Linked DNA regions of Homo sapiens: all the other regions are linked to region 1. The links come from fine-mapping of genetic effects on gene expression. A gene starts in region 1. Each other region holds a variant in brackets. All regions are shown on one strand. Distances are between the middles of the regions.

Region 1 (6,203 bases):
CTGAAAATTTATAATTTCAACATGTAAGAAATATAAAATTATTAGCTATTTAATTTTTTTAAACTAGGTCTTTGAAATTTAGCATAGGTATCTGATGCTTACAGCACATCCCAATTCAGACTTGTCACATTTCAGGGGCTCAGTAACCACATGGCCACCATATTGGAGAGCATACCTGTCGACTCACACTTTCTAGGTGTTATAAATGACGGTGGGATGACTTCAGTTGGCACTGGTAGCTGTAGTAGAACAGAACCAACTCACATGTCTCTGCAAATATCTCCTGGATCCTACCTTGACCTTCATCCCTGAGCACAAGTTCTCCAAAGTCAATATAGTCATCCTCCTTATGATCAAGGATGACCGTACTGAGCTCTTTCCACGTGCCAGGCACTGCTCTAAGCACTTTTATGTATGAATTCACTTAAGCCTCACAGCAACCTGTGAGATAGGTACTGATTATCCCTACTGTACAGATAATGAAGCTATGCATGGAGAGGTTAAATAAATAATCTACCCAAAAGCATATCACTCATCCCTGGTGCAACAGGGATTTGAACCCAAGCACTCTGGCTCCAGAGCCTGTCACTTTTAACAACTACTTTTAATAACTACATTTTAAAAAGGCTGAGAGTAAAGTATTTGGTAAATATTAAGTTTTTGTTTCTTGGGAGAAAAGAGCCACTACCTTTGGTGTTTCCAAGCCTCTTTTTAGGGCCCTAAGGTTCCCAAGATGCTTTTTCAGTGTGTAAATTCTTCCACTTAGGATTCTAAGATCTCAAGAAAGAAAGTGAGAAACTGACCCTTTTTTCTATATTAAGATCCCACCCAAAGAATAATCAAGTAGAAGCCATAACAAATAGACATGGTTCTTTGACAATCTCTTCACTTTAGGAAACGAAGGCACTCCTTACCCTGCGAGTGGGCAGGAAAGGGTGGCTCTTCATTGAAGGAGACCCATTCTGACTGGTGGGTGGCAATCACATGGTCCAAAGTCGTCATGCTAAAAAGGCACTGGTCATCTTCACACTGCTGACCTCAGGTGAACCCCAGAATACTGTCTGGGGTGGGCTGGAGTAGGGGTATGGTAGTACGGTAGACTTGGGTCCAGGGTCTGTTCTAGGTGTCTTGCCAAGGGCAGTACTCAGAATGTAGACAGATCAGCCTCTCTTGCCGTTGGTTAATCTGCCAGGCAGAAATCTGTTTAACAAACAAACAAACAAAAAATTAAAAAGGATAACCATCACATTACACTGAATCCACATAGGTCTAGGGCTTTTAGCGCTGCCCACAAGAAGGCTTGGGGTGGTTTCCAACTTGCCTTACTTCACTCTGTTCCTGTCATGCCCTCACCTTTTATACTGAAATGTCTGTCTTTAGCATCAAGGTTTCTAGATAAGCCTTCATATCACACTTGCAAATAATTACACAAATTTCAGCAATTAGATTCTCTAATTTCCCTAATTATTGTATTTTAGAAATATTGTCATCTATAATACTATCATTGCTAAACAAATATTAAAACTTTTCAAAATGCTTTCACTTTCTCTTACTAGCTGGCAAAATAAAAGCATGTTCTTTTCTATTAAATTAGTCCAGTTTCTTGCCTTAGGCAGGTAACTCTTTATAAACCTGATTTAAATCTCTGGCAGAAACCCAACAATCTCCAGATGGTATCTCCAAGCATGGTTTATCAATCAAGAAAAATAGAAATGAAGTGATCTTGTTCATTTGGAGTAAGAGGATAGGGAACATCTGTGGTAGTGAAAAATGTGAGTTAGAGTAACATTTTCAATCTAGGCCTATTTAAATTAGTTACAATGGTCTAGCCTTTGCTCACACTGCAATTATGTTCTAGGAATACAGAAAGATTCTTAATTGACATAATTTTGTTCATGGTATTAATATCTTTTTACAACCTGAACCTAGCTCTTGATCTAATAATGATTTATAATGAATTAATAAAATCTGAATTTATCTAAAATTAATGTGCTTCCATAGAAGAGCTACTATATACCTTGAACAATATCAGTTCTTATTAACTAAATATACACAATATTCAGATAGTTTCTAGAACAACTTAACTCACAGTCTTCCAATTGCTGCACAATGAAAAGTTTAGGAAATTTTACTACAGGTTATCATCTGCAGTAAATAATCTCTAGGTGGGAAAATCGGTAAAAACATGAACAGCTTTTGCTTTTTTGGTGTTTAAAACAGTTTTGGCATATGATGCTTCCTAAAAACAACTAATGTTTATATAGAATTTATAATTTTCAGAAACACATTTTCATACCATACTTCACTTGATTCAGTAGCCATTTTGATGAGTAGGACTCATAGTACTCTAATTCTTCTATGGATAAAGAAATTTGGGCTGAGAAAAATTAAGTGACTTACCTAATACTTTTAGTGCTTCCAGGCCCTTTTGGTAAAATGCTTCCTCCAGGCTAAGTGGAAGAGTTTACAAATCTCAGCACAGTGGCTGACTTTTCTTCATAATAAGATCTCACCCAAAGAATAATCAAGTAAAAGCCATAACAAGCAGGTGTGTTTGAAGCACCACACTAAGTGATAGATCCAACCCTTGAGCCCAGGTCTTCTGCAGCCAAAACACTCTAACCCTGGTGTCACAGCCGCAAAGAAGTACAACAGAATACAGTACATATAGACTATCACCCAACTTAAGTACTTTACAAATATCAATTACAATGGAACTGTAATGAAATGTCCGGGAAACTCCCCATGTGAAAGTTTGCCAGCACACCCCAAGCTGTATAAAGGATGGGAAGCCCAGAAGCCTCTTCTCCAAGTCCCTCTCCTAGGATCCTTGCCAACCACAAGGCCAGACATAGGCAAACAGCCTGGAGAGAGCAGGTCTCCCAAACCAGATCTTACCAGAGAGCAGTGCAGGGTCCACAAGCACAAAGAGCTGATTCCCACTGGCTTCTGCCTTTGACGACTTTCTCAAGCCCTGTCAAATGTGTGTCACTCAATGTGGTAATGGCTGCGGGCCAAGATAAGGCAGTAAAATTGAAGAGTCAGATTCCTCCTCTTTCAACGACAGCAGCATGTAAACCAGCCCCACAGCACCCGTCAAAAAAAAAAAAAAAAAAACCCACAATACAAGTCCCTATGCTGACACATGCAGTGTCATCACTCAATGGGGAAAACATCCTGCCAATCCTGCAATGATGAACCCAGCAAAAGTCATGGATAAGTGGGGTAGGGAAGAGAACAGGGGACGAAGGTGAAGGTAAGAGGAAAATATTTAAAAATTTTAAACTGAAAGGTTTTAAAGATCAACAACTTCAGGTGTTATGAGAAAACTGAGGCCCAAGGAAATCAGGCACACGAATAGAGATTGTGATCACAGGCCCAGGAGTTAGGTTGTTCGGATTTGAGTCCTATACAGTCTTGGAGTCCTATACAGTCGTGGACTCATAACTCAACCTCTTTAAGCTTCAGTTCAACCTTGTACAGAAAGAATAATAAAACTCACTCCATAATTCCGAGGATTAAACAAGATAATGTACGCCAAGTACTAAGGACTGGATGTAATAAACCCTCTGTAACGATGACAATGAAAACAGCAGGTGACCTTACAGAGGGCTTACTGTGCCCCAGGCTCCATTCCAAACCAATGTTAGCCATCGCCAGCACTGCTGCTATTGTTAAATGACTCGCCCAACGTTGCGTAACTTGTTCGTAGAAGTCTTGGGACTGGAATGCAGATTTCATGAAACCACTGCATTTCTGTCATTTGCAGAATCTGGTTTCAGTCATTGTTCAAAATGCTAAGTAGAGTCATGTGCTCAGCTACAGTGCCCAGAAGGCAGATTCTAAATCCTCTTCATTATAGATATAGGTGCATTCTGGCCAAAGTACCAAGACCATTCCTCAGAACGTATGAACGAAAAAAGAGCCCCAAAACTTTATCTATCCTTCCTTCACTTGTCCCAGACCAGACATGGGCTGGTGACAGACAATGAGTGGTCCCAATGAAGACTGGTGGAACAAATTGATCACATGGAACCCCCCATCATATTCCATACCATAAATCCATAAAATGGATTTTAGGTATTTGCCATGGAAGAGCCACACCAATAAGCCATAAGAAATCAGACCTTGAAAAGTGCTGTGCTAAGCAGCTGGAAACCCACAGAAGAACCCAATAATTGTGAGGTTAAGTTCATACTGGAATTAGTTGCTTGGTAAAAACCTCACCCCATTTTTAGAATGTGAATCATAAAATGAGGTTTAGAATCACCACAAATGAGTGGTGACTCAGTATCAGCAGGAGGATTGACCAACAGATGCTAAAAGTTTCATTGAAGTCTTGGAGTTGCCATTTCAGAGAGCTACTTCTTTCTCAGCATTATACAAAAATTTGTAGAAGGGAGAATGCAATTGTCTGATAAGATGGGGGTCATAGAAGTAGTTTTGTCTTATGACAGTCCTCTAATTGCCACAGTTTAGCCGTAGGGAGATCTCTGAGAGTTGGAACCATATGGGACTGGGTGGGTTTCTGAGATGTGAAGGATGTCCTTGATTCTGGACCAACAGAGGGACAAGTGAGGGAAGCCTCTGGACAGGGGATCACCGCAAGTGACAGTAAAAATCAGAAGCAGACCTTAACAAGGTGTGTTTCTGTCTGAACAAGCCTCTGTCTGATGAGAGCAGAGGTATCTACTGGGGGAATATGGAGTGAAGGGATTGATTGACCATAAAAGCTAAGGAGAGTTCAAGGGGAAATGAGAAGCTGTGGGAGGTTTAAAAGCAGAGAGTGACTCAAGAAGTGTGCTTAAGGGAGATAAGCCTTCCTCAGACAGTGCTGGACAGAAGCGTGGTGATGGAATTTTTCAGCCATCAGTACCTCCGGTGTGTCTCACAAAGTTGGGGGGCACAGTCATCAGGAACATGTACTGTTTCTGCCCATTCTAGGGCCTGAGGGTCAAGGGAGAACAAAACAGCATCTCTGCCCTCAAGCAGCTGTCAACTGCAGGGAGATACCACAGCAACCTAAAACAATAACCTCTGCTCTCTAACCTATTCTGGTGGTTAGTCACCAAAAGTAGGACAGCAGCAAGTAAGAGTGTTAAGAGACTTCTGAGAGCTTGAGCTATAGGTGGTCTTGAACTGTACCCTAAGCCGGAAAGGAGGGGTCTGAGCAAAAGAGCTGAGGGGCACAGGCACTCAGGAAGGGGGAGCAGGAATGGTATGTCTAGCCCACAGTGAGTTACACTCTGTTCATCTGAAGAGGGTGTCAAGCATCCTGGAAAAGGAGCTCTAAGTTTCAGAACGAGTTTGAGCTCTGGAGCTTACCCTCTCCAATCCCACTGCCAATGCCTTGGCTCAGCCCCTCATGATCTCTCACGCAGACAGTTGCAAGTCTCCTACCTGTCTCCCTGCCTTCAGTATCACCTGCTCAAACCTACTATCCAGCCTATTATGGTAGAGTTATCTTCCTAAAACCTGAAAATGGCTATGCTACAGCTCTGCTTACAGCTCCTCAAAGTCTCCTCACAGGATAAAATGAGGTATGAGAAATGAACAAAGGATTCCTGAGAGCAGGGGTTGCATGCTATACCCTCAGCATTGAGCATAGTGCCTGGCACAGGTTAGCAGCTCAATAAAAATTGTCGTATAAATGCAGGCACTTTGTGAATCTGGCCCTGATCCACCTCTCTAATCCCATGTGTCATTCTCTCCCCTTGTGAATCCTATATTCCTGATGAACTGAGTTATTTGAAAGACTGTGTTTTTTAATATACTTTGTCCTATTCGATCACTTGTTCATATATTAATACATTATTAAATACTATATTTGGGATACATTTTCCCTACATTTTTATTTCATGAGCTCCTGCTCACCTTCAAGTCTTAGCTCAATCATTATCTCAGGCTTGGCTCAACAAGCATTTATGCCAAGTGGCAATCACTGAATGCAAAGATAAAGAACACAAATTATTTTGCCATAAAACCTTTATAATATGCATGCTCATTGTCTTTTGCCTACTCAACACCCAAAACTCCTTTCTTTTTCGAGAAAAAAAATATTATCTTTACATCCCTCCTGGCAATTAATCCAGGCTTTGTCAACGGCTGCTAGAATATTGAGGGAATGCTAAAAGGTACAAGGGCCTTGAATACATGCAAGAGTGGCATGCGAACAATGGAAACTTGACCCAAGCCCAGAAGCA
Region 2 (6,203 bases), 950 kb before region 1:
AAAATTTTTGCAAACTATCCATCTGACAAGGGATTAATAACCAGAATATATAAGGTGCTCAAACAAATCTATAGAAAAAAAATCTAATAATCTGATTAAAAAATGGGCAAAAGATACGAATAGACATTACTCAAAAGAAGACATAGAATGGCAAACACGTATATGAAAAGGTGCTCTACGTCACTGATCATCAGAGAAATGCAAATCAACACTACAATGAGATATCATCTCACCCCAGTTAAAATGGCTTTCATCCAAAAGATAGGCAATAACAAATGCTGATAAGGATGTGGAGAAAGGGGAACTCTTGTATACTGCCGGAGGAAATGTAAAGCAGTAGTACAGCCACTGTGAAGCACAGTATAGATGTTTCTCAAAAAGATAAAAACAGAGCTACTATATGATCCAGCAATCCCACTGCTACGTCTATACCCCAAAGAAAGGAAATCAGTGTATCAGATATCTGTGCTTCCATGTTTATTGCAGCACTATTCACAATAGCTATGATTTGGAAGCAACTTAAGTGACCATCAACAGATGAAAGGATAAAGAACATGTGGTACATATATACAATAGAGCAATCAGCCATAAAAACGAAAGAGATCTTGTCATTTGCAACAACATGGGTTAACCTGGAGGAAGCTATGTTAATTGAAAAAAGCCAGGCACAAAAAGACAAACTTTGCATGTTTTTACTTATTTGTGGGAAATAAAAATTAAAACAATTGAACTCAGGTAGATAGAGAATAGAATGATGATTACCAGAGGTTGGGAAGGGTAGTAGGAAGTGGTGTGAAATGGGGATGGTTAATGGGTACAAAATTATAGTTAGATAGAATGAGAAAGACCTGGAACTTGATAGTACAACAGGTTGACTACAGTTAGCTATAATTTTTTGTACATTTCAGAATAACTGCAGGAGTAAAATTGAATTGTTCATAACCAGAAAGAAATGATGAATGCTGGAGGTGACTGAAACACCATCTACCCTGATGTGATTATTACACATTATGTGCCAGTGTTAAAATATCTCATGTACCCCATAAGTATATACACCTATTATGTACCCATAAAAATTTTAAATGTTAAAATTTTTAAAAAGAAAAAAAGAACAGCACAAGGACTATGAGATATATTCAGAAATTTGTCAGAGTGGCCCCTACCTCTCTATCCATAGGCTAGATCCACCTAAAATGAGCACTAAAATTAGGATTGGCTGATGGTCTATGTGAGCTTGGACTGACTGGATGACTAGCTGTGTAACCCGGGGCAATTTATATAACCTCTCTGGAATTCAGTTTTCTCATCTATATAAGCTAGGAATTACACTGCTTGATCAGAGATGTTGCTTCCCATTCAGAAAACAATTCTGAATTGACTTTCAGCAAGAACTGGAAGAGTAACCATTGGAGGAAAGACCATGAAGTAACCAACAGGGGCAAATCTCAGTGAAAAAGTCCAACTGCTGCAAAGGTAGACAATTTCAGGACAAAAACTTCTGTGCCACATGGTAGTCCTTTGCAAAAGTTACTTGTTGAATTTCAGAAATTCAGTTCAAAAACTATTATGAGATTATATTAGTCAGGGCTCTCTAAAGGGATAGAACTAACAGGATATATGTATATATGAAGGGGAGTTTATTAGGAGAACTGACTCACATATCACAAGGTGAAGTCCCACAATAGGCCATCTGCAAGCTGAGGAGCAAGGAAGCCAGTCCGAGTCCCAGAACCTCACAAGTAGGGAAGCCAACAGTGCAGCCTTCAGTCCGTGGCCAAAGGCCTGAGATCCCCTAGCAAACCACTGGTGTAAGTCCAAGAGTCCAAAAGCTGAAGAACTTGTAGTCTGATGTTTGAGGGCAGGAAGCATCCAGCATGGGAGAAAGATGAAGTCTGGAAGACTCAGCAAGTCTCTCTTTCCAACTTCCCCTGCCTGCTTTATTCTAGCCACACTGGCAGCTGAATAGATGGTACCCACCCAGATTGAGGTTGGGTCTGCCTTGCCCAGTCCACTGACTGAAATGTTAATCTCCTTTGGCAACACTCTCACAGACACACCCAGGAACAATACTTTGCATCCTTCAATCCAATCAAGTTGACACTCAATATTAACCATCACTGAGATGATGAATATCACAGTCATAGTTTTGAGTACCTGTGAATTTTATGTGTTTATCAGTTTTAAGAATTACCCCCCAAGCCCTAGGATAGTCTTCCCTTAGCCTTAGGTTACCATGATGATATAGCAGCTTGAGCCACCAGTTCTTCTCACAGCAATAACAAGATCTATCCGAGCTTTAACTGTTTTCACACACACCACTGTTTTGGCCTTGAGGTTTACATGTGCACATTATATAGTTTGGATATTTGTCCCCCCAAATCTCATGCTGAAATTTGATCCCCATTGTTGGAGGTGGGGCCTAAAGGGAAGTATTTGGGTCATGAGGGTGAATCCCTCATGAATACCCTGGAGCCATCCTCATTGTAATGAGTGAGCTCTCACTCCATGAGTTCCTGCAAGAGTTTCCCCCTACCTTTCCAGAGAGCTGGTTGCTGAAAAGAGCCTGGCACCTCCGCCTGCTCTCTCTTGCCATGTGATCTCTGCATAGTGTGGCTCCCCTTCTCCTTCTGCAATGAGTGGATGCAGCCTGAAGCCCTCGCAACAAGTGGATGCTGGTGCCGTGCTTCTTGTACAGTCCAAAGAACCAAATAAACTTTCTTTCTTTATAAATCACCTAGCCTCAGGTATTCCATTATGCAACACAAAGAGACTAAGATACATGAGATAGGGTCTATCAGCTCCAATCAACTAGATGGCTGAAGAGCAGCTCTAACAAGGAGAATGCTTCCCTGGATAGGTATTGTTTCTGTTTGCCCAACATCCTTTCATTACAGCATCATTTATCTCTAATGGCATGAGGTTGTGAAGTGGCTTCAATGGCAGAACGCTGCTCCCTTAACTTCAGAGTTCATTATTTTTTTTTCTTCTGGGAATTTGAATCTTTATCGCAAACATGCAGTTGCACAAGGCAGTTAAAAGAAGTCCTTCAATTGAGTGCCCTGGAAGGAAATACACAAACTTTCTCTTTGGTTTTCCAGCTCTCCCTTGACTCTATGAGCTACTTTGTGCCTAAGCTAAACAGGGTCAGTTTCACTTGCTTCCAGACAAAGAATCCTGATGCCAAAATGCAAAAGTGGTGGTCTTTCCAATCAAGTTTTGTGAAGGGAAATGTCAAGATTGTGTTGCATTCCCCAGTCATTTGCTAAGGGGGAGAAAAGAGTGACTCAGAACTAGAACAGAAACCATCTGGCTTAACAAATTTTCCTAATGAGAAAACAATTCCAAAAAGAAGAGACTGACTGGAGATCACACAATTAGTAATTGATAGACCCAGATTCAAAACACCTGATGCTTAAGTCTAGTGCTTTTCTCCAACTATCAACATTTTTAATGGATAATCCACAAAAATGAGTAATTATCTAGTAGTTGAATGCAGACTCTATTTCTAATATTTT[A/AATATAT]ATATATATATATAAAACAGTGATTGCTTTGTTTTTCAATGTTTTAACACATTCGTGCAGTTTAAAAATGTATTTTTTTAAATGCAGTGTAGATCTTTCTCCCACACCTGCCCCACCTGTCCTGTCCCTTTCTATCCTAAGGTAACAACATTTATTCATTTCTTGTGTATGCTTCCAGGGTTTTATTATGCAAGTACAAATATATATGTTTCCTTCTTTTTTTTTTTTTTCTTCCAAGTCAGGGTCTCATTCTGTTGCCCTGGCTAGAATGCAGTGGTGCAAACATGGCTCACAGCCGCCTCAACCTCCCAGGCTCAAGCAATCCTCCTGCCTCAGCCTTTTGAGTAGCTGGGACCACAGGTATGTGCCACCACACCTGGCTACTCTCACTTTGGCCTTCTAAAGTGCTGGGATTACAGGCCTGAGCTACCATGCCTGACCTGTTTCCTCCTTCCTTACACCAAAAGGAGTATACCCTACATACCTTTATGCACCTTACTTTTTTAACAAGAATTTTTATAAATTTTCCACATCATTACATGAAGAACAATCTTACTTTTACAGGTGCATTATATCCCACTATATGGACATATATTAATTTAAGCCCTCCCCAGTTGATGGATATTTAGGTTATTTTCAGACTTTTGCTGTTCAAACAATACCCTTGTAAATAACATCAGTTCATAGCTAAGCAGTATTTCTGTGGAACAAATTTCCAGAAGTGTATTTGCTGAGTCAAAGCAGATGTATGAATTTAAAATTTTGATAGATACTAACTAAATGCCTGCATAAGGGTTCATGTAGGTTTGTATGCTACACCCATGAATCATCAGACCTGTTTCCCCACAGTTTTGCTAACAGTATGTTAAAAAAAAAAAAACAGTAATAGTTCAGTTCAGCTATTTAAGGAAAAGTAATTCAGAAGAGTTAATTTTTTTTAAGTAGTAAAAAAAAAATTCTTTAAAGCAGCTTACCTGTAGATTTTCTACCTTGACCATATAACAAAGAGAGTGTAATAAAAAGCTATCCTCTGAAATCACTCGTTGCAGTTAAGAGATGTGCTCTCGGCCGGGCACGGTGGCTCATGCCTGTAATCCCAGCACTTTGGGAGGCCAAGGCAGGCAGATCACGAGGTCAGGAGATGGAGACCATCCTGGCTAACACAGTGAAACCCTGTCTCTACTAAAAATACAAAAAAATTAGCCGGGTGTGGTGGCGGGCACCTGTAGTCCCAGCTACTCGGGAGGCTGAGGCAGGAGAATGGCGTGAACCCAGGAGGCAGAGATTGTAGTGAGCGGAGATTGTGCTACTGCACTCCAGCCTGGGTGACAGAGTGAGACTCCATCTCAAAAAAAAAAACAAAAACAAAAAAACAAAAACAGAGAGAGATTGATGTGGTCTCAGGAAAGGAAGCAGGATGCATTAGGTTAGCTGCAGAAAGCGTTCACCAAACAATAATCTCATTTATGTTTAAGCTGACCAAGTTGAAACTGCTCAATAAACTGGACTATTCAAATATTGGCTCTTCCACTTCCAACTGTTGACCTCAGGCAAGTCATTTAAACTCCTTTTGCCCTATCTTCAAAATGAAGATTCTTGAGATAAAACATACAAATCACATAAAACAATGTCTGAACACATAAGTGTTCAGTTCATACAGCTATTGTCATATAACTTGCATATCTCTCAGTCATCTTTAATGTGCCTGGGGATATGTGGTAATGAGATTGCCAGGGAGCATAATCTCAAATGCATTTGACGGTATGGAGGATGAAAAACGAGAAGTAGATAACGTAAGGAACAGGAGGATGTATGATCTGTCCACTGCATTCAAATTCAAATTTAAAAAAAACTATCTTGGCCAAACAAAATAATTCTGCATGCTAATTCTGCCTTGGAGATTGCAATATCAAAAATAATTTCAAGATCCCATTTAACTTTATCATTCCATGGTTACTGAAATAGTCATTTTAGCCAGTAATGTCAGCATTCAACCTGGGCTTCACCAGTTAGTCAGCTTTGACTCCCTTCTCCCTTGCTGCCTGTTTATGTGATTGTTCTTTTTTTTTTTTTTTTTTTTTTTTGAGACAGAGTCTCACTCTGTCACCATGCTGGAGTGCAGCGGCACAATCTCGGCTCACTGCCAAGTTCCGCCTCCCAGGTTCACGTCATTCTCCTGCCTCAGCCTCCGGAGTAGCTGGGACTACAGGCACCCGCCACCATGCCCGGCTAATTTTTTGTATTTTTAGGACAGATGGGGTTTCACCATGTTAGCCAGGATGGTCTTGATCTCCTGACCTTGTGATCCGCCCACCTCGACCTCCCAAAGGGCTGGGATTACAGGCGTGAGCCACTGCGCCCGGCTTATGTGATCGTTCTTATATTCTGTTCATGCCTCCATTCAATGAGTCCTTAGCCCTCTTTCCAACATAACTTTTGAATGTTCCATGTCTCTGCCCACTTCCACATCTGTATTAGTCAAATATTGCTGCAAACCTAGAGTTTTACAACAGTAAAGCTATAATTTTCTTGCTCCCTAGTTTGGGGGTCAGCCAGGGAAGGATCTGCTTCAGTTTGTAGTTGGCTGGGCTTCGGGCTTTGAATCACAGTGCAATTTACATTACATGTCTGTCGTTCTCCCTGTACCAGCAAAAGACAGGAGCACAAGAGGGTGGACAGAAAAATACA
Region 3 (6,203 bases), 58 kb before region 1:
ACCCATCAATAGAAAATAATGGATTATTGGTACACATAACAATATAGATGACTCTCAAAATAAGCTGAGTAACGCTGGGCGTGGTGGCTCACGCCTGTAATCCCAACACTTTGGGAGGCCAAGGCAGGTAGATCACGAGGTCAGGAGATCAAGACCATCCTGGCTAACACGATGAAACCCCATCTCTACTAAAAATACAAAAAATTAGCCGGGCGTGGTGGCGGGCGCCTGTAGTCCTAGCTACTCGGGAGGCTGAGGCAGGAGAATGGCATAAACCCGGGGGATGGAGCCTGCAGTAAGCCCAGATCGCGCCACCGCACTCCAGCCTGGGCGACAGAGCGAGACTCCGTCTCAAAATAAATAAATAAATAAGCTGAGTAAAAGAAGCCAGGCAAATTAAAGAACCCACTCAATGAGTCCATGTATACAAAATTCTTGAAAATGCAAACTAATTTCTAGCGACAGAAAGCAGAGCAGTGGGTGCTTAGGGGTGGGGTGGGGGACAGAGAGAGAGGAAGTGATTATAAATGCACACGAGGAACTATTGGGGTTAGTGGATACGTTCATTATCTTGATTATGGTGATGACTTCACAGGTGGGTACATGTGTCAAAACTCATGAAACTCCACTCCTGAAAGCTGGAGAGAAACACAATGGCTCTATAGATCTTAAATAGGGCCCTTAAAATCAGGGGAGATGAGCACTACGGATTTCCATAGCTTTTGGCACACAGATGTCTTGTGAGTATTTGTGTCCTTTCAGGGCACAGAGCTGGACCACATTTTCCAGCCCCGCTGGCAGTAAGCTGTGGCCAGGCCCTGAGTTCTGGCCAGTAGGATGCACACTTCCACAGCCCACCCACCACCTAGATGACTCTGAGGACATAGAGTAGCCTGGGTTCCTGAACTCTGGAGCACTGCACACAGACACCAACTCGCACTAACGGTGGCTTGAATGGAAAATGAACTAGGCTGAGTCACTGAAATCTTGGGTTTTTATAGCAGTTAGCCTCCTGGACAAGGACATTATATAAATTATCTAAATACTATTAATATATATCAATATATACTATATAGATTATTACATAACATCTAATCACTAGTGGAATATGTTATATAATACATGTTAATATATTAATAATTGGTATATTAATATTCTTAATACCAATATTAATACTAGTAGAACAGTAGGTAAATCACTGAAACTTAGTAAGTCCTAGTGTCCTCCTCTGTAAAAAGGAAGGACATTTTTCTGCTTACCTCACAGGCTGTAATTAAGGATGAATAAAATCATGTATGTGACAGCTTTTTGAAAACAGACGTTACTTTTCACATACAAGATAATGATCATAACTACTATTACAAATGTCTGTATCTGATTTTCTTAGGCCAAGTTCACAGTTTCACTTCCAGTGAGCACCAGGTGACTTTTGTTCCAAGTCAGAAAGACCTCACTCTTAGCTCCAGCAACTCCCTTCTATTTGATAGGCCTGAAAAGCATTCATCAGGACGGTGCTTGTTGATACAAGAAGGGAGAGGGTTGGGTGGATATGTTTAATTGTAAATTCACAGATAAGGGACACATTTTGCAAAATAAAAATAAGATCAGCTATGCTTCTTGCTTTATATTTCCTCATTTTATAAGTGTTTTTTTTTTGTTTTTTTTTTTTCCCAAAAGTCTGGCCCTGAATCCTATTTCCGGGAGGTCACAAGGGAAGCAAGCCAAGACTGATGTATTACTAACCTAAATCATCACTGCTGGAAAAAGGGCCTCAAAGTGCACTTGAACACTAGCAATTGAGAAGGCACAATGGGAGCAAGTGGGCGTGTATGGGGCACATACCCACTCACCCACAGAGCTCCAATTAACTCCTGGGATTCCTTTCAGACTCTTCTAGATAGTGCTAGTCCACCTACTGTAACAAAAGTTCTGCCAATACTATATTTTAAACAGGTGAAGTAAGAAAGCTTTCAACAAATGTCACTTTTTCCTTTTGGAATCCATAACCCTAATCTAAATTATGCCACAGTAACAGATAATCTCAGAATCTTCATGTCGTAAAATCACAAAGATTTATTTTTCCCATTTATACCCAACAAGGGTCACCTGCAGCTCCATTCCTCATTTTCATTTCAGGGCTCAGGTTGAAAGAACAGATCCTGTCTACAGCATCTGACTCATCCCTGGCATTCACAGGCACTGATCTAGGAGTTCAGATGCTGGCTCACATAATACATGTTTAAGCATTTAAAAGTATAAACCACGCTAGACTGTTAAATTATGTGTTATACTCCTTGACCAATATTATGTTCATAACAACGCAGAAAGCCATAATGGAGTTTTTTTGTTTTTTTTTTGAGATGGAGTTTCACTCTTGTTGCCCGGGTGCCATGGTGAGATCTCGGCTCATTGCAACCTCTGCCTCCCAGGTTCAAGTGATTCTCCTGCCTTAGCCTCCTGAGTAGCTGGGATTGCAGGCACCCACAACCACGCCCAGCTAATTTTTGTATTTTTAGTAGAGATGGGGTTTCGCCACATTGGCCAGGCTGGTCTTGAGCTCCTGACTTCAGGTGATCCGCCCATCTCAGCCTCCCAAAGTGCTGGGATTACAGGAGTGAGCCACTGCGCCCAGCCCATAATGGACTTTTGATTTCTCGGAATCCTTGGAGCTCCACACAGAAATGTCACAGTGCAGGGCAAGGTAGCCCCTGGCCTGAGGCCTGCTCCCTTCCCTTTCCCCGTTCACTGCACTGCTCCAGCCTGCACTGTGAAGGCCCTGTGTGCTGTGTGGGGCCCTCCTGATCCACACATCTGAGCTCTATTCCCGGTCCCCATAAGTCTAGGGGCACACAAGAGCAGCATGGTCCACGCTTAGGTGCACAGATCTTGGAAGAGGCCACAGAAGAGAGCCAGGGTCTGCCTAGGTAGAGGATCCTGGAGTCCCGGGTACATGAACCATGGTCTAGAAGGGGGGGCATGGGGACAAGTGAAGCCAGAGAGCGCCAGAACAGAGTCCAAGCCAGGGTCTGAGGGGCAACCTGTGAGGCAGTAATGGGTGGTTTTGACAGAGGAAAAAGAGTGGTGGTGGAAGCACAGAGAAATCCGCACTGGAAATGTCACTTCCACCTGCTTTCCACTGGCCCCAACACAAGTCAAGCGGCAATGCCTATGTCAGTGAGGCAGGAGAGCCATCCTGTTATAAGTGGAGACCACATCTCAGGGAGGGTAGGGCATGCTTCCTCCAGGAATATCATCTTCTTTCCTTAGATACCAGTACCGAGGGTTTAGGAGAAAACACATAAGTTGAAAATAAAAGTTAACAGCTCACAACTGGTAGCATTCTAAATGTGGTGAAATGACACAGTGCCTTGCAAATAGCAGACACTGAGGGAAAGGGGGAGAATTGGATTGATATATGCCAAAGTGAAAAATGCCCCCCAATCCCAGCATCCTCTGTGGGAAAAGGACAATAATTTGGCAAAAGAGAAAGCAGTAAGTCTCCTGGGA[T/C]ACATTCTGGCTCAAACTAACAATGTGTTGCTTGCGGCAACCAATTTGTACAAACAAATCAGTCCTGGGGAGGGGGAGAGGGGAGGCAACTCATACAAGTAAACCTGGCAGCATCTCCCTTCTCCCACCCTACCCTCCCTCCCACCTCTTCTCAAGAAAGCTTTTCTTCCTGATTCCAATTCTGCAGCAAAATGCCACAGACACAAGCATTTCACAAAGCATATCGGGTGAGCCCACCCTTCAGTCAATGAGAACTGAAAGAATAAAAGAAACCGCCTTTATGAAAACTAGCCAAGGATATCAAATGAAACTTTTTCTAGTTAGATGCAGCTGTTTTTCTACAACCTTAAAAAATTTTCTTCCCATTCACTAAGTCTTAGTTTTAAAATATAAGGCATTCTGAAAAGTACATTATATTGTCATACTCATAAAAGCTACTCCTTATCATATTCCAGGCATTTTATGTACCTGGTCTCACTTAAACTTCAGAACAAACCTGCAGCTCAGTATTGTCATCATTATTATTATTATTTCCATTCTACAGCTGAGGAAACTAAAGGTCAGTGAGGTTACATGATTTGCCCAATATCACAGAGCAGGGAAGTGTTAGAGCTGGTGTTTAACCCTGTTCTGTCAAACTCTGAACACTATGACTTTCCATTATACTATACCTATGTCCTGTAAAGAATACGGAACTAGCATTATGCTGGTGAGAAATTAACCACTAGCTCATGGCTCTTTCATACGGAAAAGACAGAAATATTTGAAAGACTAGCCCTCCCCAAAGCAAACAAGCCAGCCCCTAGCCCCTGAGCAAACAGGTCAGCCCCTAAACACATCTATCATAAAAGAAATTTAAAAATAGTCCCCGTAAGATATTTCATTTTATTTCAAAATAGAAATATTTTCATTCTAATTTTTTCTGATTTTTAGATTAACGTATACTTATTATAAATAACTCAAATTATACAGAAATAAATGCAGTAAGGAATAAAAGTCCTATGTCCTCTAGATAACCACTATTAGCAGTTTGGGATATATCCTATCAAACTTTTTCCTAGATATTTAGAAATATACATATAAACACACACACTAATATAGCAAAATTAAATAGAGGCCAATACAGCAAAATGATTACACATTCTATTCTGTAACCTACCTTTTCAATTAACAATGTAATTGGGATAATTTCCATGACTGCATAGTATTCCACTGTATGTATGTATCATATGTTATTTGACATTTGCTTAGATAGCTGGGCTTTGCTTTTGCTAATATAAACACTGCAGTACTGTACACACAGCCACATGTCTAATTACTTCCTTGGGATAAACTAATAGCTAAAGAGTATGACATTTAGACTGACACTGACTGCCAAGAATGCCTTCCAGAAAGATCTTCCCACAGTTCTCGCATGCAAATTCCCAATTCTCCACTCTCAACACTAGATATTTTCAAGCATTTTAACTTTACCAAGTCAATAGACATTACCGTTTAATCCACACAGCTGATTATTGGGATTAAATGATGTTTTTCATATCCTTTCTTTGCAGTTTTTCTTTTATGAACTAATGTAGTATTGACTTTTGAATTGGCATGTAAGCCAATGAGAGCAGTGGGATAAACTAATCCCTTGGCGAACCACCAAGTCATTCTGTAGGTAAGCAGATGAAAAGGCTGATTGAGAGACTTATTAAACATAAACAACTCTTTCCTCCTTATTACATCTGTGGGAAGTAAGCTATAAATGTTGGATCCAAAACCCAGCTCCTATAGCTTGTGACAATGCATATAATGGGTCCAGAAATACTATATAGGTTGGGCTTACAGTGTCAAACTGGTTATCTTGGGCAGGGTTGGGAGGAAACTTCTGAATTGTAGTTACATAGTATTATGGGCTGAATTGTGTCCCACACAATACATGTTAAATTCCTGACCCTGGTACCTCAGAATTGTGACTGTATCATACAGAGGTATTTAAGATGAAATGAAGTCATTGCAGTGGGCCCTAATCCAATATGTTGTCTTTATAAGAAGAGGATGTTAGGATACAGGCACCACAAAGGGGAGATCATGTGAAGATACAGGGAGAAAACTGGCCATCTCCCAGCCAAGGAGCGGCCTCAGAAGAAACCAACTCTACTGACACCTTGGTCTTGGACTTCCGGACACAGAATTGTGAGAAAATAAATTTCTGTAATCCTAGCACTTTGGGAGCCTGAGGTAGAAGGATGGCTGGGGCCCAGGAGTTCGAGACCAGCCTGGGTAACATGGTGAAACCTTGTCTCTACAAAAAAACAAAAATTAGCCGAGCATGGTGGCACATTCTTGTAGTCCCAGCTATGTGGGAGGCTGAGATGGGAGGATGGTTTGAGCCCAGGAGGCAGAGGTTGCAGTGAACCAAGATCATGCTGCTGCACTCTAGCCTGGGCGACAGAGCCAGACTTTGTCTCAAAAAAAAAAAAATTCTGTTGTTTAAGCCACTTAGTCTGTGGTACTTTGTTATGGCAGCCTTAGGAGACTAATACATATAAGACTCCATATAAGCCTGAGGAAAAGTCAGCTATCAATTTCACAGAAGAAAAGTCCAATGAGCATCCTTGGTACTGCCACTGGAAGGGCTGACATCTTGTTGACAGCCCTGTTTGCAACACTTGTCTGAGTTTCCAGATGCATCACAAAGTGGTGATGTGATT

Direction of the effects. Alleles are on the strand shown, and positions count from the first base shown. SD is a standard deviation of normalised expression in the study named. Not every link is listed here.
As copies of C replace T in region 3, the expression in cerebellum of the gene that starts at base 2,944 in region 1 goes up (moderate effect, 0.42 SD a copy in GTEx).

What was found. PIP is the estimated chance that this variant, and not a neighbour inherited with it, causes the effect.
Region 2: its variant is fine-mapped to the expression of STON2 in monocytes (Quach 2016, PIP 0.95).
Region 3: its variant is fine-mapped to the expression of STON2 in cerebellum (GTEx, PIP above 0.99).

Annotation. Positions count from the first base shown.
Region 1 is chr14:81,397,381-81,403,583 of GRCh38, forward strand. It overlaps STON2 (stonin 2), which reads right to left and starts at 2,944. Exons shown (of 8, transcript NM_001394390.1): 1 at 2,899-2,944; 2 at 915-1,200. The coding sequence starts at 1,002.
Region 2 is chr14:80,443,276-80,449,478 of GRCh38, forward strand. All of the region lies in intron 8 of DIO2-AS1 (DIO2 antisense RNA 1), which reads left to right. Among named protein-coding and RNA genes, the nearest start is that of DIO2, 230 kb to the left of the region's middle. The variant A/AATATAT (reference allele first, on the strand shown) is at 3,516.
Region 3 is chr14:81,339,801-81,346,003 of GRCh38, forward strand. All of the region lies in intron 4 of STON2 (stonin 2), which reads right to left. Among named protein-coding and RNA genes, the nearest start is that of STON2, 57 kb to the right of the region's middle. The variant T/C (reference allele first, on the strand shown) is at 3,508.